4 separate regions of the Homo sapiens genome follow, and regions 2, 3 and 4 are each linked to region 1. The links come from fine-mapping of genetic effects on gene expression. A gene starts in region 1. Each other region holds a variant in brackets. All regions are shown on one strand. Distances are between the middles of the regions.

Region 1 (7,503 bases):
TCAATTAGCCTTTCTTCTTTTCTTGAATCAGGACAAAACTTAGCCAACCTAAGCCACTAGAATGTTAAACAATTATAAAATACTTGATTTAACTGAAGTGGTATAAAATTGCTGGTTCTGAAATATTAACAGATAATCTTCTGAGGCAAAGGAGGCCAGGTAAGAGCTTCTTTGGTAAATTTCCAAGTTCCATGTTAAGCACAAAGTAGGGGCTTAATGATATCAACTACTGAATTCAGTGTCATTCATCTGTTTATATCAACTACTGAATTCAGTGTCATTCATCTGTTTATATCAACTACTGAATTCAGTGTCATTCATCTGTTTTCCAGCTATACCTCAATCTCATCTGAAAAGCAAAAACATCTAACCTACAGAACAATTACACTGCGGGCATATTTAGGAATTTCTAAGTATGTTAACAGTGAATCACTTTTATCCCTGAGTGGAAGGATACAATGTTAACAGTTAACTTTTATCCCTGATTGGTGACCATGGGTGGTTTTAATTTTTACCTGTATTTTATGATAATTTTCACGTTTATATAATTTTTTTTTAGTATTTTTACAACTAGGAATTTTGAACTGAGATAAGGCATTACTATTATATACTTGGCAGGTTTCTTATCTAAAACTAAGAACCAAGTATTCGTTGACTCTTCTAAAGCAATCCTGTATATTCAAGGTTGATTAATAGAGTAAAAAGTTTTTTTATAATACAAAAATTAGCCGGGTGTGCTGGTACATGCCTGTAGTCCCAGCTACTCCGGAGGCTGAGGCGGGAGAATCACCTGAACCTGGGAAGTGGAGGTTGCAGTGAGCCGAGGTCGCGCCACTGTACTCCAGCCTGGGCAACAGAGTGAGACTCCGTCTCAGAAAAAACAAAAAATTTATTTAATACACACAAAAATAAAAATATCCACGTTTTGGGGACAGTTTTCTAAGTGGAAGGTCTTAATCTCTTGGAGAAGTGGGGCATGAATCCTGCCAGCCCTTCACCTGTCTTAGAGATTGCTTCACTTTAGATAAATGGAAGCCGAGTCCTTGAAGACTCTGCTTCCTCAATTTTCTATAAATCCATGAGTTCAGCCTGGTGAGATCTTTCCCACAGCTGAAAACTGGTTTCCTGAAATAACTGATACCCAACTTCTACTACTTGCTATTATTTATCATTTTTACCTTTTAAAGTTGCAGAAAATTAAGACTGTAGGGCCCTTCCACATGGCCTAACAGGTACGGCTCGGCATTTGAATTTTTTATCTTTTAATTAATTAATATATTTATTTTGAGACAGAGTCTCGCCCTGTCGCCCAGGCTGCAGTGCAATGGCACGATCTCGGCTCGCTGCCACCTCCGCCTACCGGGTTCAAGCGATCATCCTGCCTCAGCCTACGGATGTAACTGGGATTACAGGAGCGCGCCACCATGCCTGGCTAACTTTTTATATTTTTAGTAGAAACGGGGTTTCATCATGTTAGCCAGTCTCGTCTCGAACTCCTGACTTCAGGTGATCGACCCACCTCGGCCTCCCAAAGTGCTGGGATTACAGGGGTGAGCCACCGAGTCGAGAAAATACATTCTTAAATCTTAATTTTTAAATCTCACATATAATCATTCCCAATAAAATTCTAATTTTTGATAACTACTAAAAAGCGTAAGTTAAAATTTCCATTAGCCATATCAAAACATACCTGAGATGGATTAGACAAAAACTGCAGGTGAGAAAAGTCACTTTGTTATCCACTGACTGAACATCTCCAAATAAAAACGAGTGTGGATAGTTCTTAAAACCTGCATGTTTGAAGCCAAATATTCATTTCTGTTGCATGTATTTCAAACAGCATGTATTTTAGCCCCAAAAAAGTGTCATTTCCAAGAAACACTGGAGTCAAAAGAGAGGACAGTCATATCAAATAGCCTTGATTATTCACCATGTAAACTACAGTGATTTTTCATGTTATACATATAAATTTGACCTCTTTAATCAGTTTACATTTCCTTTAGGAATTAAACCAGCTAATTCTCAGAAACCACAAGTTTATTGCTTATAACAGAAGACAAGTTATTTACAGGTTACTCTAAATATGCTGCGAGTACTTAAGGCAAAATGAGTTACCTCTAGCTTTTCATCAACAAAATGGGAATACATGGATTTTGAGACATAAAGTTTTTCCAACAATATTTTTAGGATGGGTCTTTAAACTCTGAACTCATAATCCCAGCACCACCTCAACTTTATCTCGCAAGGAAGAAAAGGGACTAGGTGCAAGTTTACCAGCACCCAAGATGGCCCTGTCACAGGCGGCACCTCCCACCACAGCCACCATTTTGACTGCAGGATATAATTAAACTACTCACGATTTTGTACCAACTGAAAGAAAACACAGGACATCAGAGTAACTGAGAAACATCCTTTGACCTTTAGGATTCCCAACTCTTTAGCTTCCGTGTCTCTGTTTCTCTTCTTTCGTCAATATTAACAGTTGTCTAAAGAATATTTTCATTAATAAAATTATGCTTGCTACATTCACGTTCAAACTTTGAAAACAAACGCTGTGGCGCCACGTAAAATGCCCGTTATTACCTCTTCCTAAAAAGTGGAGAAGCCCACATTTCCTCACATTGTTTTAATCAGCTTAAGGAACTAAGAATCGCCAAAAGCCAGTGAGTGGCCCTAGACTATCTGTCTACATTCCTCTTCATTCTCCCATCCCCAACCCTTTTGATCTTTTTATTTTCCTGATTTCATTAACTGCGACGAGAGCAAGTTCCCACACTTCATTCACAGAAGAAGCAACTGATATTTCAGCAAACACGACTAAATCTAAAAATAAAGGTGAGGCAAAGAGCTCTGAAATAAACGAGTTAAAATCAACCCGAAAATGGCACAAAGTAAGATCCGTGGGGCTGGGGAGGCAACAACAACGATTTGCTCTTCCAAAAGAGTGGCTCTAATTTTGATTACTGCGTCGGCGAACCCATCCGCAGAACAGAAAACAAAAACTGACCAACGCAGTTGCCATTCACCTTTGTCCAAAGGCAAAAGGTGAAAAGTCACGACACATATTGCCATAGAAGAGAAGGCAATTCAACCTGCCAACCAATCGACTAATTCTCAGCTCCTTCCAAAAATAAAAATAAAAATAGGAGAAAGGGGGCTGCCGCTGGGCTGGCCGATGCCTGGCCGCCGAGTGCGCCGCGCTCCGCAAGCTCCCGCCACCCGCCGCGCTCCAGGACCCTCGGGTTTCGGCCCAGTTATCACAAAGCCCCGGGCTGGAAAACACCTCCGGCCTGGCCAGAATGGCCAGCCCGTCCTCCGCGCTCGCCCGGGGGGATAATGGTGGCGAGATCAACTCCAAGGGCTCCCGAGCCCCGCGATAAAGAGGCTGGATATTACGGGAGGAAGGACGCTGTGGAAGAATAACGGAGTCCCAAACTTTCCTTCCACACCTCCAGAGCCCCGCGCCCAGGCCCGGTCCCCACCGGCCCGAAGTTGGCCGGAGCGCCTCCCGGGAGCTTGGGGCCTCCGGGAGCCCCTGCCACGCGCCCGCCCGCCAGAGCGGGGCTAGCCCTCCCCGCCGGCCGCGGCCGACTCCCGCCCCGGTCCGAGTTAATCCCGCGCGGGCCCCCCCCCCGCGCCCGGCCCCGCCGGAGCAGCTGGCTCGCGCCTCAATGGCACCGGGCGGCGAGCGCGCGCAGCCCTCGCGCCCACACCCAGCCCCAGCCCACCGGAGAAGTCCCGGGAGGGTCGCCGGGTCCCGCTCCCGCTCCCTCTCCCACAAAAGCACGGGCCCGCCCCGCCCTCGCGGTGCCTGCTCCTCCACCCCAGGATCCGGCGTCCCCGGCCCGACGCCCCTCGGCACCCGGGCACAGCCCGGCGGCCCCCGCCCGCCCTCCTGCCCTTTTGCGCCCTCCTCCTGGCCCCCGACTCCCGGCCGAAGTCCCTCGGGCCCCGGCCCCTCTGCGCGACGGCCCGGGACACCCCGCGCGGGGCAGGGGGAGCAGGGGGCGCAGCGCGCCGCCTCCCGCCCGCGCGGCCACTCACCTCGATCTCGAAGTCGGGCAGGCGGAACGCGGTGCGAAAGAGCGAGCAGAAGTGCGCGATGGCCGGGACCTCCCACCAGGAGCGGAGCTCGCCCAGCCCGGCCGCGCCGCCCTCCTCTGGGCACATCTCCCCGCTGCGGCACAGGCGGCGGCCCCTCGCTGCCCGCGCTCTGCCCGCCGACCTGGGACTCCCGCCGCGGCAGCGCCGCAGCCTCCGCGCGGTCCTCGGCGGGGGCGGCGGGGCGCTCCTCCCGCTGCTGCCGCCGCTCGGCGAGTGCAGGAGCCGAGGGCGGGCGCCGGGCGGGGGGCGGCGGCGCGGGGGCCCGAACTACTGAGGCGGCTGCGGCTGCGGCTGCCCGCGGGGTCCGCGCGCTCGCCCCATCCCGCGGCTGCGGCGGCGGCCGCCCCCAGTCCCCTACAATATAATCGAGTCCCCGCCGGAGAAACAGATGGGGCTAGGGGCGGAGGGGCCGGACGCGGGGCCTGGGGGAGGGGCCGCCCACGAGGAGGGGGCGGGGCTGCCCGCGCCACAACAACAACCCCCGCCCCCGCCCCACCCCCGCCCGGACAGCTGCACCGCCAGGGAGGGGGAGGGGCGGGGCGCGCGCCCCCGGGCCCAGATCCGCAGGACCCAGGGGGCGCGGGCCGCACCCCCGAGAACTCTCACGAGGCGCCCTCCGCCCTCCAGGACTTTGGGACTGGGGAGTTGAAGCACTTTCCCAAGGGAGGACGGCCAGGAGCTCTCCCACCCCCACTTGGCCTGAGTGGTCGCGTCCTTTTAAAGGGCCCGCGGGGTGGTCCTTTCGGTCGGGCTAGAGACAGAAACGTGCACGTGTGGGAGTTCAGTTATTATTGATGCCGAGGGCAGAGCCGGAGCAGGAGCGGGCTGTCCACCCTAGAAATATGAAGCCTAGAGAAGTGAAGTGCTTTCCACCTGTTTCTTAACGCTTTTATTCCAGCCGAGAACGGCGCCCAAGGAGCTCTGAAGTGGCTTTTTTCTCCGAGGGAAGAAGGCGGTGGGGCTGATTGAGCTGGAACGAAGTAGGATGGAGGCTGGAGAGCGGCGGGAAGGGTGGGGTAGGGGGAGGCACCAATCAGCAGCCAAGCGGGAAGAGCGATCCCCAACCCCAGGGAATGGACACGTGTGACCGCCCCGGAGAAGACGGGCTCGGAACCCTGCTACTGCCCGGCCGCTGAAAGAGCTGCCTGGAAGAGTGAGCACAATGTGCTTGGAAGGCGGGGGGATGGGGCAGAGGAGATCGGGAAGCCGGGGACTGTGCTCGGAGGGGAGGAGACCCCCACGCCCCGGCGGAGGGATTGAATGTGCTACGGCCGAAGGGTGTTGGAGTGTGTGCTTTAGAAATGCTAACTGCTGTAGCGCGGTGGAGTACTGCTAAATCCTAAGAAAAAAAATCACCCCAGAAACAGGCTAGAAGTTTGGAAAAACTCCATTGAATGCTCAGATATTTGTATTGGTCGTCGCACTTGCATCCTGCTGGTCTCAGAGGGCCGCCTCTGAGTTCGGTGGTCCACCTTTCAGATAGGAAACACTGCTCCTGGTGCGTCCCCCAAATTAATCAACTATTTATTGAGTGACAGGCACAATCACAAAGTGTACAAGGGTTAAACTCAAAGATCCTCTTCTACCTTTAAGTAGTGTACAATCTGGAGATAATTTATATGATAGATTTTGGAATGGGCTGTCTGGATAATTACCCCTCCACTCTCCCTCACTTTATTATGATAATAACTTGTTGTATTTTTTAAGGCAGCATTCAGAAACATAATTTTAAATGGTTAGAGTATATTCACGTGCATCTTCTGTGAATCTAGTAATCTCAAAATACATCATCTTCTAACAAGGGTCTCCTCCGCCCCCCACCACTCTCTCCTGGCACAGAAAAACAACCCAAAGTTCTGCTCTTTCATTCCCTGGAACTATTTGATGATTTAAAGTGCATCCTCAAATTCTACCATGCTTTTTATTTAATGTTTGGCAAAAATGAGCTCACATGTGACTGCTCCCAAAAAGCCAAGCCTACGTTTGTGTGTGTTGGTGAAGCACAGCTACCCCGTGAGTATTGCATTAGCAAGGGAGATGGGAGAGGGACACAGGCCACCCCGGAATTGTCACGTAACCTGAACGAGGTGCTTTCTGGACTTGCTTCTCCGTCTTTTATTTCCTCACAGTTTGACTTTGCACACTTTTTCCTCTGTGTGAGTTGGCCGGGCGCGGTGGCTTACGCCTGTAATCCCAGCACTTTGGGAGGCCGAGGCGGGTGGTTCACCTTAGGTCAGGAGTTCGAGACCAGCCTGGCCAACATTGTGAAACCTCGTCTCTACTAAAAATACATAAAATTAGATGGGTGTGGTGGCAGGCGCCCGTAGTCCCAGCTACTCGGGAGACTGAGGCAGGAGAATCGCCTGAACTCGGGAGGCAGAGATTGCAATGAGCCGAGATCTCGCCATTGCACTCCAGCCTGAGCAGTAAGAGTGAGACTCCGTCTCAAAAAATAAAAATTAAAAAAAAAAAGTGTTACTGCGTTTCCCTGCCTTTATCTTTTGTCATCGTTTAAGCTTCTTCCCTCGCCTCTCAGTTGTCACCACTAGCCAGCCTAGTAATATTAGTGCCTAGGATATTAATGACACCAGCAAGCAGAGGGATGAGATGATTTGGCTACCTTTTAGTACGGTAGTGTGTTTAATGTCGTTTACAAACACCACCCCAGCCCCAATTTAAAGGCTGAGCCATTGTCTTCCTGCCTCCTCCGCCTACTGCCAAGCCCCGGAAATCAACAAGACTGTCCGGGAACGGCACGCGCCCCCTGGTGCTGCTCGGAGATCCGCCCTGTCTCTCAGGGCTCCTCCTCCCTTCTGCTGCCCTTTCCTTCTGAGGGTCTTCTCTGTTCTGTGGCCCAGCACACCAACTTTAGACCCATTTCCTCCCACCATTCTCTAACTCTGTTTGTCTCTACAGTTTTTTCCCTAGTTCCTCCACCTACCCTGCTACTCTGGCCTCAACTACCCTCTGGAACGGATCCTGGCCCCAGGAGCTGAGGGGTCTCAAGTGTCTTGGAATCAACAGTAAATCTCAATCTTGAGTTCCCCGAGTTTGGGCTCCAACCAGAGCTTTTCCATTTGGACCTTCTCTGGCCCTGTTAGGATTGATACCCTGAATCTTTGACCCTGCTTTGAACATCTGTGCCACGCCTCCCCTTGGACTTAACTGCCTCGGATCTATTTTCTGGACTAACTTCCAGCCTAACCTCCTAGAATCTAGATTAATGACCCCCTACCAATAGGCTGGCCACTCACCCTTCTTCCCTTCTCCCTTTGATTCGGAGTGCTATTGTACTTCTCCAGCCTGGCCCATTCTTTCACCCTCGAAACACTAGTTGAATCATCTTCCTTAAAAACACACAGTTTGCCGGGGCGGTAGGTGACGCCTGTAATCTCAGCA
Region 2 (7,503 bases), 23 kb after region 1:
TTAAGCATTAAGCGGGTAGCTGTTCTGGGTTGCTCTGTCTTAAGGTAACTATGGTAACTATAAAAATGATACTGTGGGATACTAGATTAATTTCTTCCTCATTGGCTTCCCAATCTAATTGACTCCGTTGACGTGAAAGGGTGACTCCCAGCTGCTGGCACCCCTGTCAATCCAACCAGGATGTGAAACATCCAGCTGTGTTTTTTCAGCTCTTTCATCGTCTTCATCTGAGAGAAAGACTCTGCTTGGATTGGTAGTGATGAGCCAAGGGGAACAGCATCAGAGAGGCTGCATAGGGGTGCAAAGAGGATAAACGAGTTTCCAGATATGCTGGTGCATAATAGGGATAGGTTATGAAGGAAAATTAAGTGGAAAGGAAAAAAAATGATATGCATTAACTCTTTGAAATTAAGGTGTTAGTGAGATAAAGACTCCCATTGTGCAAAGGGTGTTTAGCAAGATGGAGCCTGAGAAGAATGAAAGTCAAAAGTGCATTGTGATTTCATGGTCCAGAGATGCCTTAAGGGGCATGTGGGTCAACCTCCCACCCACTGAGGAATGCCTCCTGACATCTCTGAGGACACGTCAGCCTGCATTTGATCACTTTCCATTTACAGCATTGGGAGTCACTGCATCGGGAGGCAGACGACTCTAGTTTTGGTCAATTCTAACTATTCAAAGAATCTTCTTTTACAGTGAAGTGAAATCTGCCTTTCTGTAAATTTAACTTGATGATTGAAGAGCAAGATTAAAATGTATTACTTGGCCGGATGCAGTGGCTCACGCCTGTAATCCCAACACTTTGGGAAGCCAATGTGGGTGAATCACCTGAGGTCAGGAGTTCGAGACCAGTCTGGGCAACATGGTGAAACCCCGTTCTCTACTGAAAATACAAAAAATTAGCCAGGTATGGTGGTGGGTGCCTGTAATACCAGCTACTTGGGAGGCTGAGGCAAGAGAATAGCTTGAACTTGGGAGGGGGAGGTTGCAGTGAGCCAAGATTGTGCCATTGCACTCCAGCCTGGGCAACAAGAGTGAAATTCCATCTCAAAAAAAAAAAAAAATTAGCCAGGCTTGGTGGCAGGTACCTATAATCCCAGCTACTTGGGAGGCTGAAGCAGGAGAATTGCTTGAACCTGGGAGGTGGAGGTTGCAGTGAGCTGAAATCATGCCACTGCACTCCATCCTGGGTGACAGAATGAGACTCCATCTCAAAAAAAAAAAAAAGTATTACTTTCTCTTCCACGTAATAATAGCCCCTTGAAGACGCTAGTCAGTGCCACTCTAAGATTTCTCTCTTCTGCAAGTAAATACTCCCACTTCATTTATTTAATATTTATTTGTTCATTTATTCAGAGCAGGACCCAGGTGTGAATTGTTCATTATTGCATATCCAGCAACTAGAGCAGTACTTGGTTGTAGTAAGCAGTAAATAAAACAAAACCAAAACGAAACCAGAAATCATTTATTGAAGGTCTTTTCTGTGCCACGCACGGTATCCAACTGTAGATTTAGATTTACGAAGTTCAGTAAACCAGGGTCCATGCAGTTCAGCAATTAAAGTCTAGAGAGGAAGGCAAACAAATAAATCAGAGATTAGAGATCTGCATGTAGGCACAATATGTTATGGGGAGCACGGACAAAGAACATCCACACTAAGCTAGGACACCAGAGGACGCTTCCTGGACACGGAGATGCTTCAGTGCAGCTTGAAGGACATGTGTCCTTTGGGTGGACAAGGGGGAAGCTAAGAGGCGCAGTGGCATAAAATAGTCGCGTCACTCGGAGTGTCTGGGGCAAAGCATGTTTGTTGGTTGTGGAAGAAGAATGAGGCTACAGATGTAAACAGGATTCAGGTGAGGAAAGTCCTTTTGTGCTCAGCTCACAGTTAAAGCTTCATGCTGACACATTTGGAGAAGCCACTGAAAGAGTTTAAGCAAGAAAATGATAGAAACTGTTTACGTTTAGAACATTGGCACAATGATGGAGAATGGCTTGAAGAAGCAAAGGGAACAAATAGGTTGTAGTCAGAAAGACGAGTTAGAAAATAGACTGAAGTCACAAAGGCTGAAGTCAGTAATTCAGGCAGGAAGCAGTGAGGTCCTAACCGAAGGCAACAGCAGAGGGCATGAAGAAAAGGAGGAGTCAGGACAATATTGTGCAGCTAGAACCTACAGGCTTTGGTGACTGATGTGTGTTCTGCTTGAGAAATACGTGTCCTAGATTACTTGTGTTGGGAATAACACTTAAAATCTTAAGGAGATTGAACACTCAAACAAAGGATTCTTAGCAAAGCAATTTTACTTTTGCGCAGAGGGGTGCTTTTCCTTGGCCGGTCACCATGAGAGCACACCTGAACAAAGGCGCACGAGAGCCTTTATTCCTGATGCCAAGTCCTGCCCCTGTACCCTTTCCCCATTGGCCAGGGTCGGGTCGCACAAACTGAACTAATCCCGGTTGGCTAGACATTTGAACTCTTTTTAGATAAGGTGGACACGTAAGGGAGAGAGGGGAAAAGGGGAAAGGGTATCTGTAATGAGTTAGCGAGCTAGTCTTTTTTATTTTTTTATTTTTTTATTTTTTGAGACGGAGTCTCGCTCTGTCGCCCAGGCTGGAGAGCAGCGGCGCGATCTCGGCTCACTGCAAGCTCCGCCTCCCGGGTTCACGCCATTCTCCTGCCTCAGCCTCCCGAGTAGCCGGGACTACAGGCGCCCGCCACCACGCCCGGCTAATTTTTTTGTATTTTTAGTATAGACGGGGTTTCACCGTTTTAGCCAGGATAGTCTCGATCTCCTGACCTCGTGATCCGCCCGCCTCGGCCTCCCAAAGTGCTGGGATTACAGTCGTGAGCCACCGCGCCCGGTCATCTTTTTTTTTAAATAAGGAAAGAATGTGAGCTGGTACTGATAAGCCTGGTACTGTGGCGTGTCTGGGCATGTAACAAAGGCAGAAAGGAAAAAAAGAGAGAAAGGAAAAAGGGGTTTAAGGGTATATGAATTAAAGAATAAAGGATTGATAGGGCTATTTGAAGAGAAACCTCATCATATCCCACACTCGCGTGACTGGGCGAGGGATGACCTCACTGCCTGAAATCCAGACTATGGCTCTTCAGAGAAAGTTGAAGCAAGCAGGTATACACGTTGTAACCCTGAGGCACGATGAGCTGATGACCAGCCGGATGCACAGGACCAGCAGGGAGGTCCCAGTGGACGTGGTGCGGGAGCCAGCAGGGTGTAGCAAGCCCTTCGGGAGGCTCCCCAGGGAGGACATGGGAAGGGAGGGGGGCCAAGAACTAAGGACAGAGCTGTGGTCCTTCCCTCGTTCCTTCCTCGCATAGCGTGGATTCAAGACTTTTGTTGTTGTTGTTGTTGTTGTTGAGACAGAGTCTCGCTCTGTCCCCCAGGCTGGAGTGCAGTGGCGCAATCTCGGCTCACTGCAACCTCCGCCTCCCAGGTTCAAGTGATTCTCCTGCCTCAGCCTCCCAAGTAGCTGGGACTACAGGAGCGTTCCACCACGCACGACTAATTTCTGTATTTTTAGTAGAGACAGGGTTTCACTATGTTGGCCAGGCTGGTCTCAAACTCCTGACCTCAGGTGATCCGCCTGCCTCAGCCTTCCAAAGTGCTGGGATTACACGCATGAGCCACGGAGCCTGGCCCAAGACTTCTTTTTTTTTTTTTTTTTTTTTTTTGAGATGGAGTCTTGTTCTGCCACCAGGCTGGAGTGCAGTGGCGCGATTCCAAGACTTCTTAAAGTCCTGTTGAGCCTTCTCAAGGTTCTTCTTGGGATTGTACCTAACAAAACAAAGCAAAAGTTATTTCACCAACGCCCAGTATGACAGTGTTGCTTCCTTCCCTTGAGCTGATAAGCATGTTTATCTTAAGACAACCAAGCTAGCATTAGGGTTTTGGCAGCTCATCACACCATTGGTTCATATTGAGTCCAGAGACAACAGAAACCCCCCAATTT[A/T]AAAATAAACAGTCAGGCTGGCTGGGCATGGTAGCTCACACCTGTAATCAAACCAGCACTTTGGGAGGCAGAGGCGAATGGATCACTTGAGGTCAGGAGGTCAAGACCAGCCTGGCCAACATGGTGAAACTCTACTAAGAATACAAAAATTAGCCAGGCATGGTGGTGGGCACCTGTAATCCCAGCTACTGAGGACGCTGAAGCTGGAGAATTGCTTGAACTGGGGAGGCGGAGGTTGCAGTGAGCTGAGATCGTGCCATTGCACGTCAGCCTTGGCAATAGATCAAGACTCTGACTCAGATAAATAAATAAATAAATAAATAAATGGTCAGGCCAAGATCTCCTTCAACTACTTTTCTGTAATTGGTTTTTGGGATTTGATTACACAATTTTATATTTGCCTACTAGAAGATGACCCTTTCAGCCTGCATTAAACAGGCCTTCACTGCTGTCAGAATAAAGGTGCCACATGCCAGTATCATGTAGAGAATGTAAAGAAGCTTCAGAAAAGCACTGGAAAATAGCACCTACAGGAAGAGGCTGATGAGATGATGCTGCATTGTTGTCGCTGGAGAAAAGTCATGTTAAATGTGCTAATTGGCTCTGCCAAAAACAATTATGATTTTTCAGTCTCATATGAGAGACTTTAGAAATACAGAAATGTATAAACAAGAAAAATTTTGAAATCACCCATAAAAATGCTCATGTCATTACATTAAGGGGAAAAGAATACAAAATTATATATATAATTTTATTTTTATTAAAAAATATTTGTGTGGCCGGGCACGGTGGCTCAAGCCTGTAATCCCAGCACTTTGGGAGGCTGAGGTGGGCAGATTGCAGTCAGGAGTTCGAGACCAGCCTGGCTAACATGGTGAAACCCCGTCTCTACTAAACATACAAAAATTAGCCAGGCGTAGTGGCACACTCCTCTAGTCCCAGCAACTCAGGAGGCTGAGGCAGGAGAATTGCTTGAACCTGGGAGGTGGAAATTGCAGTAGCAGAGACCACGCTACTGCATCCTAGCTTGGGCGATGGAGCAAGACTCCATCTCCAAAAAAAAAAAATTATGCAAGGCAGAGCACTAATCTTTAAAATAGGTAAAATAATACTTCTTCATAGTGTTGTGAGGATTAAATAAGCAAAGTATTCCTGGCACACAGTAAATTTTTTTAAGTAACTATTATTAAGGAAATATAGTAAAAATATTGTTTGTCTTTGGGCTATATGACAACGATGGCCACCTCCTCAACCTTCTTTCTATTTTTGTGCATTTCTCAAATATTCTATTACGATTATGTGTTACCTTTATATGGAAAAAGATAAATTTTAATGGAAAAACAATACATACTAATTGTAGAGATATAGAAATAAACTAAAACACAGTATTGTAGAAAACAAAATTGCCAGCTGGGCACAGTGGCTCACGCCTGTAATCCCAGCACTTTGGGCGGCCAAGGTGGGTGGATCACTTGGGGTCAGGATATATATATATTTTGTTTGTTTGTTTGTTTGAGACGGAGTCTTGCTCTGTCCCCCAGGCTGGAGTGCAGTGGCGCGATCTTGACTCATTGCAACCTCCACCTCCTGGGTTCAAGCGATTCTCCTGTCTCTGCCTCGTGAGTAGCTGGGATTACAGGCACATGCCACTATGCCCGGCTAAGTTTTGTAATTTTAGTAGAGATGGCATTTCACTATGTTGGTCAGGCTGGTCTGGAACTCCTGACCTCAGGTGATCCACCCACCTCGGCCTCCCGAAGTGCTGGGATTACAGGCGTGAGCCAACGTGCCCTGCCTTACATAAATTTTTTTTTTAGAGATGGAGTCTTGCTCTGTCACCCATGCTAGGGTGCAGTGGGGCGTGATCTCTGCTACTGCAACCTCCACCTCCTAGGTTGAAGCAATTCTCCTGTCTCAGCCTCCTGAGTAGCTAGGACTACAAGTGTGTGCCACTATGCCCGGCTAATTTTTGAATTTTTTTTCTTTTTTGAGACGGAGTTTCACTCTTGTTACCCAGGCTGGAGTGCAATGGCGCCATCTCAGCTCACCTCCGCCTCCTGGGTTCAAGCGATTCTCCTGCCTCAGCCTTCTGAGTAGCTGGGATTACAGGCATGCGCCACTACGCCCAGCTAATATCGTATTTTTAGTAGAGACTGGGTTTCTCCATGTTAGTCAGGCTGGTCTCGAACTCCTGACCTCAGGTGACCCACCTGCTTCGGCCTCCCAAAGTGTTAGGATTACAGGTGTGAGCCACCGCGCCTGGACTAATTTTTGTATTTTTAGTAGAGATGGGGTTTCACCATGTTAGCCAGGCTGGTCTCGAACTCCTGACCTCAGGCAATCTGCCCGCCTCAGCCTCCCAAAGTGCTGGGATTACAGGCTTGAGCCACCGCAGCCCGGCCACATAAATATTTTTTAATGAAAATGAAATTATATATATAATTTTGTATCCTTTTCCCCTTAATGTAATGACATGAGCATTTTTATGGGTGATTTCAAAATTTTTCTTGTTCATACATTTCTGTATTTCTGAAGTCTCTCATAATGACCACGTGTTATTTTAAAAATAGTATTCACTTTTACTAATCATAGTAATGTATGTCATATAATGAATAATATAGTAGAATAATATATAATACATGCTCAATGTGTAAAACAAAACTACAGAAAAATCCACATCACATAAAGAAAAAGTAGCCGGGCTCAGGGGTTCATGCCTGTAAATCCAACACTTTGAGAGGCTGAGGGGGTGCACTGCTTGAGCCCAGGAGTTTGAGACCACCCTGGCCAACATGGTGAAACCCTGTCTCTACAAAAAATACAAAAATTAGATAGGCGTGGTGGCGCGAGCCTGCAGTCCCACATACTTAGGGGATTGATGTGGAAAAATCGCTTGAACCCAGAAGGCAGTGGTTGCAGTGACCCAAGATTGCACCTCTGCACTCCAGCCCTGGTGACAGAGTGAGACTCTGTCTGAAAAAATAAAATAAAATAAAAATTAGCTAGGTGTGGTGGTGTGCACCTGTAGTCCCAGCTACTCAGGAGGTGAAGGTGGGAAAATTGCTTGAGCCCAAGAGGTCGAAGCTCCAGTGAGCTGCAGTTGCACCACTGCACTCCAGCCTGGGCAGTGAAGTGAGGCGCTGTCTCAAAAAAAAAAAAAAAAGGAAGTAAGAAAAATAAAAATAAAAAAAGAAATGAATAAAAAAAATTGTTGAGGCTGGGCACAATGGCTCATGCCTGTAATACCCAGCACTTGGGGAGGCCAAGGGCCAAGGTGGGAGAATTGCTTGAGGCCAGGAGGTCAAAACCAGGTATCACAGGGAGACCTCACCTCTACAAAATAATTTTAAGGCCATGGCCAGGCATGGTGGCTCACGCCTGGAATCTCAACGCTTTGGGAGACCAAGGTGGGTGGATCACTTGAGGTCAGGAGTTTGAGACCAGCCTGGCCAACATGGTGAAACTCTGTCTCTACTAAAAATACAAAAATTAGCTAGGCATGGTTGAATGCACCTGTAATCCCAGCTACTTGGG
Region 3 (7,503 bases), 110 kb before region 1:
TTATATGACTGGTAGCGCACTAGGTTTGTTTACACCAGCATCACCATAACCACATGAGTAATGCATGTGCAAGCATGTTACAAGGGCAATAATATCTCTAGGGGATAAAAATTTTTGTGTCTATCACAACCTCGTGTGACCACTGTCGTACATGAGGTCTGCCACTGAACAAAATGACAGTATGTGATGCATGCCTGTATTGACTATCTGGCCCTTTACAAAAAACATTTGCTGGCCCCTGTTCTAAAACATGCAAACCACAACGGAAAAGGATACAGACACTTGGTTGAGTCAAAATCTGTTTTCTGCTGAGCCTTTGGAGGAACTAGGCATAGTGTTTCATGATGATTACTCTCACTCATCATTTCGTTTAATCCTCATAATAACTTTACTGAATATTGTCACTAATTCCATTTTATAGATGAGGCGAATTATGCACAACTAAATGAAGTTACTTTTTTTTTTTTTTTTTTTTTGAGACAGAGTCTCGCTCTGTCACCCAGGCTGGAGTGCAATGACACGATCTTGGCTCACTGCAACCTCCACCTCCCGGGTTCACGCCATTCTCATGCCTCAGCCTCCCAAGTAGCTGGGACTACAGGCGCCCACCACCACGCCCGGCTAATTTTTTGTATTTTTAGTAGAGACGGGGTTTCACCGTGTTAGCCAGGATGGTCTTGATTTCCTGACCTCGTGATCTGCCCGCCTCCACCTCCCAAAGTGCTGGGATTACAGGCGTGAGGCACCGTGCCCGGCCTTTTTTTTTTTTAAAAAAAAAAGAGATGGAGTCTCACTCTTTCGCCCACGCTGGAGTGCAATGGTGCGATCTTGGCTCACTGCAACCTCCGCCTCCCGGGTTGAAGCAATTCTCCCATCTCAGCCTCCTGAGTAGCTGGGACTACAGGCGTGCACCACCACGCCTGGCTAATTTTTGTATTTTTAGTAGAGACCGGGTTTCATCACATTGGCCAGACTGCTCTTGAACTCCCGACCTCAAGTGATCTGCCCGTCTCGGCCTCCCAAAGTGCTGAGATTATAGGCATGAGCCACTGCGCCCGGCCGAAATTAAGTAACTTTTTAAGCTGCATAGAACAGTTTAGTCTTGGAGGCATAACAGGTAAACATTTACTTATCCAAATTTCTCTTTCTTTAGAATGAGATCAAAGTAGAACTTCAGACAAGAACGAGTGTACATTCACAGTAACCGCATGTGGAACCATCATTTTAGGCAATTCCCTTCAGGGAAAAAAGTAAAGTAGATTGTAGTGTTCTTTCTTGTCCAGGTTCTCTGTTACACAGGTGTGTTCAGTTTGTGAAAATTCATTGAGCTTTAGAATTAGGAAATGAGCACTTTTCTCTGTGTGTGTGTGTGTGTGTGTGTGTGTGTGTGTGTGTGTGTATTATACATGAGTAGTAAGTTTCAAGATGACTGCTGTCACTGGTACCTTGATCACAGACCTGTAAGCTAACTCGAGCTAAACACACCAGTAGTGGTTTGTCCAGGTTCCTGACCCACAGAAACTGTAAGATTACACTTTTTGTGGTTTTAAGTTGCTAAGTTTTAGGGTAATTTGTTACTTAACAATGGATAATACAGCTTGAAGCAGACATCAGTATTAACACTGAAAAAAGAGATAGATAATAATCCTAGAGAGTCAAAAGAATACTAACTCAAGAAAAAAATCAAGGCCAATAAACTCTGCAAATTAAAGACAGATACAGGGATACGGTATTCTATTATTTAATAAATACTTGTAGGGGCAAGGCACAGTGGCTCACACCTGTAATCCCAGCACTTTGAGAGGCCAAGGCAGCAGGATCGCTTGAGACCAGGAGTTCAAGACCAGCCAGGGAACACAGACCTTGTCTCTACAAAAAATTGTTAAAAATCAGCTGGGGATGGTGGCACAGTCCTGTCCTGAGCTACTCAGGAGGCTGAGGTGGGAAGACTGCTAGAGCCCAGGTTGAGGCTACAGTGAGACAGGATCCTGCCACTGCACTCCAGCCTGGGTGAAACAGCAAGACCCTGTCCCAAAAAAAAAAAAAAAAAAAAGAAAGACCACATTGTAGGGATGTCAATTTTGCCCACATTTCTTCATAGGTTTATTTGATTCTAGTTAGAATGATTAGATAAGGGGAGTTCTTAAAGAACAGGACATAACTTTGTAACCACTATCTGGAAGAACAAACAAGCAGAATTAGTTAAGATCAATTTTAAACAGAAGGACAAATTAGAGGATGAACTCAGCCACGGAGGAATATCCTATGAGAGAAAACAGCCCATATGTGAAGGCTCAGTTCACAAGTCACTTTCTTACCCCAGGTTGTATGCTCTGTTAATATGTTGTATTTTTATTTCTAAGCACTTACTGTTGTAATTACATAACTGGCAACTATATAATCATTACTGTAATGATTCATGGACCTCCCTGTCACAACTGTGAACTCTAAGAGATCTGGTGAGTGTTTGTGCTGCCAGTACCTACTAGTCTGTGTACAGAGGGCTCACAAGGATCATCCAAGCAGACACTCTCACGCACTGATCATTTAAGGCTAAAATACAACCACCTCTGTGACGGGAAACCTGGCAAAAGCCTTTAAGCCTTGCTTAAAATGAAGATCTTAAATGGGCATATCTTTTGACTGAGTGATGTACTTCCAGGAACCTGGTGAATTTTGTACAAAGCTATGCATTATATATGTTTATAACAGCTAAAAGCTAGACATAACTTGTCAGCTACCAGACTGGATTATTTGACAATGACATTTAGAAAATGTGGTTATAAGAAAACTGATTGCTATAATGAAAAAAAATTCCAGGTTATGAAAATGTGGAATTAAACACAAGGTACGAATACAACAGTGCTTAAAAATTACAAACTCCCAAGTCTACATCCTAAATAGAGAACGGAAGAAAATATTCTAAGGTATATTTTATGTTTATTTTTATTTACAAATACAACCTGGGTATTCTAGGGGGAAAAGTCATTATACTTAGTGCACGAGCAATAACTCTCCCCTAGAGAATGCAGACTTCCACCCTGAGAAAAACAGCATTTACATCTCCTTCTTACCTTGTCTACAACTTTATTGCACATTAACAACAAGCATCGTTTCCCAGCCCTAACAGACTGAATTCGTTAGAACAAAAATATCTGATACTTGGCCAGGCGCGGTGGCTCACGCCTGTAATCCCAGCACTTTGTGAGGTCGAGGCGGGCAGATCACGAGGTCGGGAGATCGAGACCATCCTGGCTAACACGGTGAAACCCCATTTCCACTAAAAATACAAAAAATTAGCCGGGCGTGGTGGCGAGTGCCTGTAGTCCCAGCTACTCGAGAGGCTGAGGCAGGAGAATGGCGTGAACCTGGGAGGTGAAGCTTGCAGTGAGCCGGGATTGCGCCACTGCACTCCAGCCTGGGCGACAGAGTGAGACTCCGTCTCAAAAAAAAAAAAAAAAAAAAATTTGATACCATTTTACCTATCTGAGAAAGGCAAACCATAACAACTCAAACCCCCTACATGGCATCAGAAGGCAAGAGACCAGGAAACCCATTGCATCTCACCTTTTTGTGAGTTTGCCCTGTAGTTCTGTCCTATATAGACACATAGCAAAGAAACGTGTATTAAGTAAAGATCAAAACAAGAGGTCCTATCAGGACTCTCCTTTATTTGTCTCCATACATCACATTTTGCTCAATGTCTCTACACATCTCTCTTTTTTTTTTATTACATCAGTGCTGCTGGCTATGTAAACAACAGAAGATACTCAAATGACAGAAAGGTAATAAAAACTAGTTTTGATTTCTTAGGCAATACTTTACCAATACTGCAAAATCAGAAAATGGCAAATATAAGAAGAAATTCTACACTAAAATATGTTAGCTGGGGTATCCAAGAGTAAGTGATATGGATTTGTGAGAATGAAATAAACTCAAAGATTATGATGGAATAAAAACCCAACTGCAGAATAAGCCAAACACAGCCTGGAAATTTACGTGTACGTCCTCCATCTACAGTGTCCCGTGATGCCTAATGATCGGTTCTGGTTTGTCACAGGAGACAGGAAACATCACTATGGTTGGTTAATTAGTTCTTGG[C/G]GCAAGAAATGCTTAGAAAGATCAGAATTACTCACGTGATATCTCTTCGTTGATAGCAGCCCTGAAGCAGGCAGGCAATCAGGTCACTGATAAACTCCACGTCATCTCTGTGAAGAGCGGCTTCTAACTCCTGAGGGAGGGAGAGAGGGAAGTTGAGAAATCAAACAGAGATTTCTTAAAATACACACCCCTTCCTACCGCCAGCACAAGCCCCAAGAACTGAATGGTCCCAGCAGCGGAAGGACTTGCCAGAGATCAGCTCTGCCCTTCCTTCTGGCTACTGTGAGAAGAGCAACCGGATTCCGCGTTTTCTTTTTCCCAGGGTTTTATTTCTCTCACTACTCCCTCCCCAACCCCATTCCTCTTACCGGCACATGAGAAGAAACACACATAACTCTTTTTGATAAATCAATGCTAGCTGCATAATTAAAGAGCTTAACTCTTTGATTATATATAATCGAGTATAAATACAAATGTGCTGTACTGCTATTTTAATCGCAAAAGAGAGGAAAGGAGTGCTCATGTAATTGTTTATGAAACATTTGTCATTTACTCAACCTTCTCAAGAGATAAACCATCTGCAACAGCTTTAAAGAACCACTGTATTTTGAATGGCATTTGTTAGTAAGTGATAATGACAATTTTTATTTTGGGATGCCACACCTACATGGCTGATGAAAGGTGATTGCGAGATCCAAGGCTAATCTTACATCATCTAAACAGAATGAGGTAACGTCTCTGTGAATGTCTTTGCTTTCCTTGGGGTTCAGCTTGCCTCGACACGGTATTCCAACAAGCAATTGTTTGGAAAGGGACCACTGGACAAAAAGTGGTGGTGGGGAACTTTAGGAGATCCTATTTCCCTTCCCAACACCCCCAAAATAAGCAGGTATTTTCTTAGATGACAGAATGTTTTCTAGGCCATCAAGTCTCCTACTAGAAAAGTTTGCCCACATTCTTTCAACCAGGATGCAATCTTCTGCATGCAAACCATTTCCCAAGAGTCTGCTCCCTATGGTTTGACTTGCTCATAACCAGATCAGTAATCCCCAGAAAAACCAAACTTCTGACAATCTTATTAACGGTTCTGAAAAGTACGAGATGTGCATAAGATGCAAGTTGTGATCTTAACAGCAATTACATGATAGCAGACACAAAACGGGGTGGGGTTTCCTTCTTATATAGAAATAATACGGCTCTGGCCAGGCATGGTGGCTCACTTGAGGTCAAGAGATTGAGACCAGTCTAGCCAACATGGTCATACCCTGTCTCTACTACAAATACAAAAATTAGCCAGGCATGGTGGCACGCACCTGTGATCCCAGCTACTAAGGCTGAGACACAAGAATCGCTTGAAACCAGGAGGCAGAGATTGCAGTGAAATGAGATCGTGCCAGCGTACTCCAGCCTGGGCGACAGAGTGAGACACTGTCTCAAACAAACAAAAAACACAAATCAATCAGTACTAGCAGGTACAGAAAACACGCTATGGGAGCTGAGAAGAAAAGGGTTACTTCTGCTGTGGAAGCCTGGGAGATTTCGTGAGATGGTAATTGTGACCGAGTGACAATGGAGAGAGGCAGGGCATGACCAGGTGCAGGAGGATATTAGGTTCAGTTTAACTATTCTTTAGATTATGTGAAGGGGAGTAATGTGAGCTGAGATTGACAGGCGATCCTGAATACCCAGCTAATGAGTTTGGCCTTTCTTCGGGAGACAATGGAGATCTACCTCAGTTTATTTCTATAGAGAGGCAAAGTGAGACTAATCTAGCTGCTGTGTATATACAAGGAATTCTAGTGGTAGAGGGTGGGAGGGGAGATGTTAGCCCAAGCAACAGCACAAGAGGAAGGTTCTAAAGGACTTACTAAATGAGAGAACGGAGAAATAGGAATTCAAGATCTGCCACAAGTAAAGGCCAGCCGAGGCGAGGGAAGACTTGAATGGCTCATGTTTTAAGCTGGGCACTGGGCAAGCCTCCCAGTGACTTACAACAGAAGCAAAATCTTCAAAGCCAAAACTCCCAGGCCAATCTCATTTGATAGGTAAGTCAGAATCAGCTAGAGCCGGAAATGAAACTACAGATCACGTATTTCCATTCTCTCAATTTAAAGATGTAGAAACTAGCCGGGTGTGGTGGTGCATGCCTACAGTCCCAGACACTTGGGAGGCTGAGGTAGGAGGATCACTGAGCCCAGGAGTTTGAGACCAGCCTGGGCCACACAGCAAGACCCTGTCTCTTTTAAGGGAGAAAAAACAACAACAGCAAGATAAACTAGGTCCAGAAAGGTTAACTGGCTTCTCCAAGGGCACTAAGCAAATCAGTGACAGAGCTGAGTGGAAACCCAGGTCACCGAGTACAGTGTTCTTCCCAAAACCAAGCTGCTCCCCCCGGCCAATGTTCTCCATTCTAGAAAGGCCTGATGGTTTCTACAATTACAGTGACCGCCCCAACCACTGTGTCTTTTCTCTAAGAGCCCTCACATGTACCATTCTCCCTAGGTGGAAATCCCGTCCCTCTGCTGAACTGTACTGCAGTTCTTTACGGGAGAAACTTTATCTGCAAAGTCTTCCCAGCCAAGCTCCCCCACGCTGCTCCCACCAGTGCTCACTGTCACTGTGGCGTCCATGCATCCCCAGGTTTCTACACGTCCTGTTCTGTTCCCTTCCCTGCCATCATAAACTAAGAGCACAATCGGATCGTGATTAAAGGTGCTACAGTCTGTACTAACTAATTTCTCCTAAGATTTTTTTAAGCATGGAAGTACCAAATTAAATAATAAAGGCAACACTGGAGGCTGAGATGGGAGGATTGCTTAAAGCCAGGAGTTCAAGACCAGCCTGAGGAACATAGCGAGACCCCATCTCTACAGAAATAAATAAATAACAAAGGCCACATTTGAGAAGATAAGCTAAGAACTGGGAGGGTGTTTTCAAGGAGGTGACTGCATAAAGTTTGCCGTATGGTTCATGTGGCATCTCCTTAGAGGATCACTTTTACTATGTGGTTTCCAAGAAATTTAATTACCTTTTTCTCCATCTCCGCCTTCGGCACACAGACATCCTCTTCTGGCTTCCGCCTTTATCATGGCCATTTTCACCAGCGCTGCCTAGGTTCTAGCTAGAATACTATCCTCCAAGGAGGCAAGACAAGTTTTCTACATTGTAGCAATAATGTCAGGAGTGCCTTTTCTTCTAACACAATAGAAAGTAGAATATCAGGGATGCTGGACTAGCTCTTCCAAGGAGAATCGAATAGGCTTAAATGGTCCCTCAAAGGACACACATAGGGAGAGGAACTCTGCGTCACTTATTAAATATTCCAACTCTTCTCCCTTACCTACCATATTCCCCATTTCACCATCCCTGGAATATAGTAACTAACTCATGAAGTCATTAAAA
Region 4 (7,503 bases), 34 kb before region 1:
GTAGGCTATTTGACAATATTCCTGACCTCTACCCACACCCCTCTTCCCCTGAGTTGTGGCAACCAAAACTGTCTCCAGACACCGCCAAAGTCCTCTAAGAGGGCAAATCACCCCGTTGAGAACCACTGTTAGACAGGGTGCCTAACTTCTCCTATCTTAATTTCCTTAATCATCCACCTAAAACCTGAGGCTAAAATAAGGCCCTCTAATTCATGGCTTTTTTTTTTTTGAGACAGAGTCTCACTCTATTGCCCAGGCTGGTGTGCAGTGATGCGATCTCAGCTCACTGCAATCTCCGCCTCCCAGGTTCAAGCGATTCTCATGCCTCAGCCTCCCCAGTAGCTGGGATTACACGCGCCCGCCACCGTGCCTGGCGAATTTTGTGTTTTCAGTAGAGATGGGGTTTCACTATGTTGGCCAGGGTGGTCTCGAACTCCTGACCTCAGGTGATCCACCCGCCTTGGCCTCCCAAAGTGCTGGGATTACAGGCGTGAGCCACCGCACCCGGCCTCTTTCAATTATAGCCCAGTACGGTATTCTCATTCACCAGCCTTGCTCTATATCTCACTAGGATGATGCAAGCTTATACTGAAATAACTAAGGAAATGATTTTACACTGAATGATCCTTAAAACAACAACAAACTCCTCAAAGTCAGTAAGTGGCTATGAAAAGAGTTTATCTTAAGTTTCTATCCAAAGAAAGTATTGGTATAAAAGCTTCCCATTAAACTTCAAGAACACGGCTAATAAGCTAATACTCAAGTTATCAAAGGACTGGTAGTTTCTGAATCTGCATTTTTTGATTTGTACTTAAATGCTTCTTATACAAGGTGCTTCCCTTTGAAACTCACTGACACATCTGCTTGTTTACCTCACCAGTGTTCAAGAAGGATTTTAGGTTCCTCCATTTTCGCACGAGAATACCCCAGGCATGCCAGGCAGTAAAGGGTTAATTTAATTAGTTCTGTGTATGCTCAAAGAATTACAAGCAACTTCATGTAATTATTAAGCAGCCAATCAGGTAATCTCTGTGGTTGATTAGTGCACTAATGAAATAATGTCTTCCAGTTCAAAGCTGTCACTGCAATCAGGAGACAGCTCTTCAGCTAGAAGAAAGAGCTGGCAGGATTTCCAGACTCATGCTAAGAATCTGGGGAAGGGAAATGAATCATTTCATATTTCACCCCTATTGTATTAAAAGATAAAGAAGTCTCTGAATTGACATTTATAAGATACTCTAGCCAAGAACAGCAGAATACACATTCTTTTCTTTTTTTTGGAGGGAGGGGTGGGGGGAGGAACAGAATCCTGTTCTGTCACCCCCCAGGGTGGAGTGCAGTGGTATAATCTCGACTCACTGCAACCTCCGCCTCCTGGGTTCAAGTGATTCTCATGCTTCAGCCTCCTCAGTAGCTGGGATTACAGGCGTGTGCCACCACGCCTGGCTAATTTTTGCATTTTTTTAGTAGAGACGGGGTTTCGTCATGTTGGCCAGGCTGGTCTCGAACTCCTGACTTCAGGTGGTCCTCCCGCCTTGGCCTCCCAAAGTGCTGGGATTACAGGCGTGAGCCACCATGCCCGGTCCTACACATTCTTTTCAAGTGAAAATGAAACATTTACCAAAAGACACCATATTCTGGGCCATAAAACAAGTCTCAATACATTTAAAAGGATGCAAGTCATACAAAATGTCTTGTCTGACTAAAGTGGGTTAAATTAGATATCATTAATAGAAAGCTCTCTGGAAAATTCCCAAATATTTGAAAACTAATATTCTTCACACTTCTAATAACTAATACACTTCTAATATATTCGTATTTCTAAATAACCCATGGCTGCAGGAAGAAATAGAAAGGGAAAAGGGGAAGACCTGAATGCTTTTTCTCTAAGATGAGGAACAAGACCAGGATGTCTACTCTGGCCTCTACATTTTATGGTTGGCTCTAGACAGTGCACTAAGGTAAGAAAAAGAAGTAGTGGCTTCCACATTGCAAAAAGATGCAAAACTATTTTTATTTACAGACAACATGATCATCTATGCAGAAAATCCAATGGAATCTACAAACAGGTTGCTAAAAGGGGGGAGTTTAGGAAGGTTACAGATACAAGAGTAATATAACTCAACGCTATTTCTAATACTAGCAAACAATTGAAAATTTTTTTTTTTTTTTTTTTTTTTTTTTGAGATGGAGTCTCACTCTTTTGCCCAGGCTGGAATGCAGTGGCACGATCTCGGCTCACTGCAACCTCTGCCTCCTAGGTTCAAGCGATTCTCCTGCCTCAGCCTCTGGAGTAGCTGGGATCACAGGCGGCAGCCACCACACCCGTCTAATTTATTTTATTTTATATTTTATTTTATTTTATATTTTTTATTTTATCTTATTTTATCTTATCTTATCTTATTTTATTTGAGACGGAGTTTCGCTCTCGTTGCCCATGCTGGAGTGCCATGGCGCAATCTCGGCTCACTGCAACCTCCACCTCCCAGGTTCAAGCGGTTCTCCTGCCTCAGCCTCCTGAGTAGCTGGGATTACAGGCGTCCACCACCATGCCCAGCTAATTGTTTGTATTTTTTAGTAGAGACAAGGTTTCACTATGTTGGCCAGGCTGGTCTTGAACTCCTGACCTCAGGTGATCCGCCTGCCTCAGCTTCCCAAAGTGCTGGGATTACAGGTGTGAGTCACCATGCCTGGCCTAAAACTTTCAAAAATGTATAATAGCATCAAAAAGAATGAAATACTTTGGGATAAATCTGACAAAAGATGGGAGATACCTAAAGAGTTGAGAATTTGAATATAAAACTTTTCTGTCAGAAATCAAAGAAAACCTAGAGAGAGAGAGGTACCATCATCATGGGTCAGAAGACTCAATAGTGTTAAGAGGCCCATTTTCTACAAATTGACCTAGATATTCAATACAACTCCAATCTAAATGCTAGCAGGCTTTTTTTGTAGAAACTGATAAGCTAATTCTAAAATTCATATGGAAATATAAAAAATATAAAATAGCCAAAGCAACTTTGAAAATGAACAAAGTGAGAGGACTAACATTATTTGATTTCACTACTTATTAAAAGCTGCACTAATTAAGATACTGTGATATTGTCTTGAAAACAGAACAGAGTGAACAATGACATAGAACAGGGTCCAGGGCCAGGCGCGGTGGTTCACGCCTGTAATCCCAGCACTTTGGGAGGCCGAGGCGGGTGGATCACGAGGTCAGGAGATCGAGACCATCCCGGCTAAAACGGTGAAACCCCGTCTCTACTAAAAATACAAAAAATTAGCCGGGCGTAGTGGCGGGCGCCTGTAGTCCCAGCTACTGGGGAGGCTGAGGCAGGAGAATGGCGTGAACCCGAGAGGCGGAGCTTGCAGTGAGCCGAGATCCCGCCACTGCACTCCAGCCTGGGCGACAGAGCGAGACTCCGTCTCAAAAAAAAAAAAAAAAAAAAAAAGAAAGAACAGGGTCCAGAAATGAACCCACATGTATATGGAAAACTGACTTGGGCAACTAATAAAGGATAGTCTTTTTTTTTTTTTTTTTGGCAGGGGGGTCGGGGGGATGGGGACAGAGTCTCGCACTGTCATCCAGGCCGGAGTGCAGTGGCACGATCTCGGCTCACTGCAACCTCCACCTCCTGGGTTCAAGAGATTCTTCTGCCTCGGCCTCCCAAGTAGCTGGGAGTACAGACGTGCAACATGACGCCCGGCTAATTTTTGTTATTTTTAGCAGAGACGGGGTTTC[A/C]CCACATTGGCTGGACTAGTCTCAAACTCCTGACCTCGTGATCCTCCTGACTCCATCTCCCAAAGTGCTAGGATTGCAGGTGTGAGCCACTGTGCCCGGCCAGGGTGGTCTTATCTACAAATGCTACTAAACACATGCCCCCTCCCCACTCAAAAAAAACCCCACCAACTTCGATCAGTACTTTATATCATATGCAAATTATCAATTCAAAATGAAGCACAGACTTAAATGGTAAATCTAAAACAATAAAACTTCTAGAAGAAAATGTAAGAAACAAACCTTTGTGACCTTAGATTAGGAAAAAGCAAAACCAGAATATATAACAGCTCAATAGACAAAGAGTCCAATTTTAAAATGAGCAGAATACCTTAACTAGAAGATCACCAAAGATATAAATAGCTAACACAGAAAAAGGTGAACATTATTAATGATAAGGGAGATGCAGATCAAAACCACATTAAAATAGCCCTTCGCCCCCCACTACTGAATAGTGATAAGCAAAAGGACAGGAAATAACAAGTATTGATGATGTGAAAAAACTAGAGCCCCTTATTCACTACTGTTGAAAACAAACTGGTGTGTTTACTTTGGAAAACAAGTTTGCCAGTTTCTTTAGAAGTTAAAACATAACTCCAATTCTACTACTAAGTATTTGTCCAAGAAAAAAAGAAAGCACACACTTACAAGCAAATACGTGCAGCTATTATCTATAATAGCCCCAAACAAAAACAATCCAAAAGCAAAAACAATACATCATCTGGTGAATGGATAAAAAGTGGGTATAGCCAAACAATGGCAGTACCAAAAGAAAAAAATGAGGACATGTCTAAAGGAGAAAGGAGTCAACCTGAAAGAATTTCCAATGGCCAAAGCTTGAAATAATTTGAGCAGCTAAGTAAACAGTATTAGATTCAAACCCAAAGGATAAGTATCAATGAGTCCACGCTGATGACAACAGACTTAAGGAGACATGCGATGTCAGGTGGAATGCAGGAACAAATCTTGAAATGAAAAGATGGGGAAACTGCCGGGTGCGCTGGCTCACGCCTGTAATCCCAGCACTTAGGGAGGCCGAGGCGGGTGGATCGCCTGAGGTCAGGAGTTCGAGACCAGCCTCAACATGGAGAAACCCCGTCTCTACTAAAAATACAAAATTAGCTGGGCGTGGTGGCACATGCCTGTAATCCCAGCCACTCAGGAGGCTGAGGCAGGAGAACTGCTTGAACCCGGGAGGCGGAGGTTGCAGTGAGCCGAGATTGCGCCACTGCACTCCAGCCTGGGCAACAAGAGTGAAACTACGTCTCCAAAAAAAAAAAAAAAAAAAGAAGAAAAGAAAGAAAGAAAGAAAAGAAAAGATTGGGAAACTGTTGGAATCTAAACAGTCTGAAGTTTAGTTCATAGTACTGCACCAATGTGAATGTCTTAGTTTTAACAAATTTACCATGATTATAAGAGATTAAACATGAGAGGAAGCTGGGTGGAGGGTTTATAGAAGAGATCAGCAAACTACAATCCAAGGGCCAAATCTAGCCTACCACCTGTTTTTATAAATAATGTTTGACTGGAACACATCCATTCATTTACTCACTGTCTTATGGCAGCCTCTGCCCTACATCAGCACAGTAGTCTTAAGAAAGACCATTTGGTGTAAAATATTTATTATCTGGCTCTTGACAGGAAAAGTTTGCTGAGCCCTGATATACATGAAGTCTTTCTCTGTGCTGTCATTGTAACTATTCTATAAATCTAAAATGATTCTAAAGTAAATTTATTTTTTTAAAAAGTTAAAATGTTGGCCAGGCACAGTGGCTCACGCCTGTCATCCCAGCACTTTGGGAGGCCGAGGCAGGTGAACTGCCTGAGCTCGGGAGTTCGAAACCAGCCTGGGCAACATGGTGAAATCCCGTCTCTACTAAAAATACAAGAAATTAGCTGGGCATGGTGGTGGGCACCTGTAATCCCAGCTACTCGGGAGGCTGAGGCAAGAGAATCACTTGAATCTGGGAGGCGGAGCTTGCAGTGAGCTGAGACTGCGCTACTGCACTCTAGCCTGGGCAAAAGAGCGAGACTCTGTCTCCAATAAAAAAAGTTAAAATGTTGAGCTGGGTATGGTATTGAGCACCTGTAGCCCCAGCTACTCAGCAGGCTGAAGTGGGAGGAGTGCTTGTTGTATCCAGGAGTTCAAGACCAGACTGGGCAACACAGTGAGACCCCATCTGTTAAAAAAAAGGCAGCGGGGGCGGGGGGGGGTGTTAAATATTCACCTACCATATGACCCAGTCATTCTACTTACAGGTACTTACCCAAGAGAAACGGAGGCATGTGTCTAAAGAATGGTACACAAATTTTTGCCAATAGGTGCACTCAATAAACAAACTATAGTACTATCTATCCCTCAACTGGCATAGTACTCAACAATAAAAAGGAATCAACTACTGACGCATGCTACAGAATGAATGAATCTCCATTTACACTGAGTAGAACGAACAGGAACAACATCAAAAGAGCGTATATCTCATGTAAAAGTCTAGGAAATGTAAACTAACATACAGTAACAGAAAGCAGATTGGGGGGGTCACCCTGAGAGAAACACAGGTTGGGGTGAGACGGGGGCAAAGAGATTACAAAGGGACACAAGGATATCACACCCTCGCGTGGCGTTGGCGGACATGTTCGTCTTGACGTGGTAATGGTTTCACTAGTGTGTATATATATGTCAAAACTTGCCAAATTGTACACATAAATATTTGCAGTAGATTATGTCAGTTATACCTCAGTAAAGCTGTTTTTTAAAATAAGTTGCAAAAATATTCTTCTGGTCTTCTGATATCAAGCATTATGAATAAATAGACTAATCCATCAACAAACCTCTTCAGCTACCAGTTTCTGTCACCCGTCCCTCCTCACCTCTGGAACACTCTTTCTTTAGGGGAGATGAAGATTCTGAATTGTAGTCACACTTGTTCTAGAAGAAGTCTTTAGAAAATCCTGCAAGAATAAGACTCCCCTGGGGACTGGTCGCGGTGGCTCACACCTGTAATCCCAGCACTTTGGAAGGCCAAGGCAGGAGAATCTCCTGAGCCCAGGAGTTCAAGACCAGTCTGAGCAACATAGTGAGATCTCATCTCTACCAAACAACAACAACAACAAAAGTCAAAAAATTAGCCAGCCACGGTGGCATGCGCCTGTAGTCCCAGCTACTAAGGAGGCTGAGGCCAGAGGACTGCTTGAGCCCATGAGGTTGAGGCTGCAGTGAGCAAGAGATTATGCCACTGCACTCCAGCCTGCAACAGAGGGAGACCCTGTCTCAAAACAAACAAAAAAGACTCTCCTGGGATCCTGCCAACAAACTATACACAGGCAAGTGAGATCCCAATTACCTGGATAAGCAGCAAGGTATTTACAGAACAAACCCTCTGACCTCCCTCTTCTCTGCCCTTCTCAGACTTTCTGTCTTTCCCTTCGCTCTTAAGCCTGGGAGAAATGAAGATGTCAGCCAGCCTGGGAGTCAGAATGCAGCTCCGCCATAAAACAAAGACTTCAGAAATGAAATCACTCACGAGAAAAAGGACATTTCTCAAGAGCCTCCTAAGGATAAAGAGAGTTGGCAGGTGTGCCTAGCTTCTCTAACCTTATTCAACACCCAGCAAGCATCTTCACTGAGTGACTTTGTACCCTGCTATCCATTCCAGACCTCCTCATCTACTCCACACACCTCAGTGACTGGCTGCCACTAAGTTCTGCCCTTCCCAGACAGC

Direction of the effects. Positions count from the first base shown, and alleles are read on the strand shown. Sizes are in standard deviations (SD) of each study's normalised expression. Not every link is listed here.
In carriers of allele C in region 3, the expression in subcutaneous fat of the gene that starts at base 4,494 in region 1 tends to be higher than with G alone (small effect, 0.36 SD a copy in GTEx).

Evidence for each region. PIP is the estimated chance that this variant, and not a neighbour inherited with it, causes the effect. A credible set is the group of variants that fine-mapping cannot tell apart.
Region 2: its variant is the best candidate, but not a certain one, in a credible set for the expression of CECR2 in lung (TOPMed, PIP 0.58).
Region 3: its variant is the best candidate, but not a certain one, in a credible set for the expression of CECR2 in subcutaneous fat (GTEx, PIP 0.82).
Region 4: its variant is the best candidate, but not a certain one, in a credible set for the expression of CECR2 in lung (TOPMed, PIP 0.56).

The regions. Positions count from the first base shown.
Region 1 is chr22:17,366,451-17,373,953 of GRCh38, reverse strand. CECR2 (CECR2 histone acetyl-lysine reader) reads right to left here and starts at 4,494. Exons shown (of 19, transcript NM_001290047.2): 1 at 4,045-4,494. The coding sequence starts at 4,170. RefSeq lists silencers at 4,057-4,156, 4,167-4,236.
Region 2 is chr22:17,343,553-17,351,055 of GRCh38, reverse strand. No RefSeq gene overlaps it. Among named protein-coding and RNA genes, the nearest start is that of CECR2, 22 kb to the left of the region's middle. RefSeq lists an enhancer at 3,703-3,997. The variant A/T (reference allele first, on the strand shown) is at 3,970.
Region 3 is chr22:17,474,316-17,481,818 of GRCh38, reverse strand. CECR2 (CECR2 histone acetyl-lysine reader) reads right to left here. Exons shown (of 19, transcript NM_001290047.2): 2 at 4,137-4,231. Among named protein-coding and RNA genes, the nearest start is that of SLC25A18, 85 kb to the left of the region's middle. RefSeq lists an enhancer at 5,598-6,151. The variant C/G (reference allele first, on the strand shown) is at 4,102.
Region 4 is chr22:17,400,321-17,407,823 of GRCh38, reverse strand. All of the region lies in intron 1 of CECR2 (CECR2 histone acetyl-lysine reader), which reads right to left. Among named protein-coding and RNA genes, the nearest start is that of CECR2, 35 kb to the right of the region's middle. The variant A/C (reference allele first, on the strand shown) is at 3,746.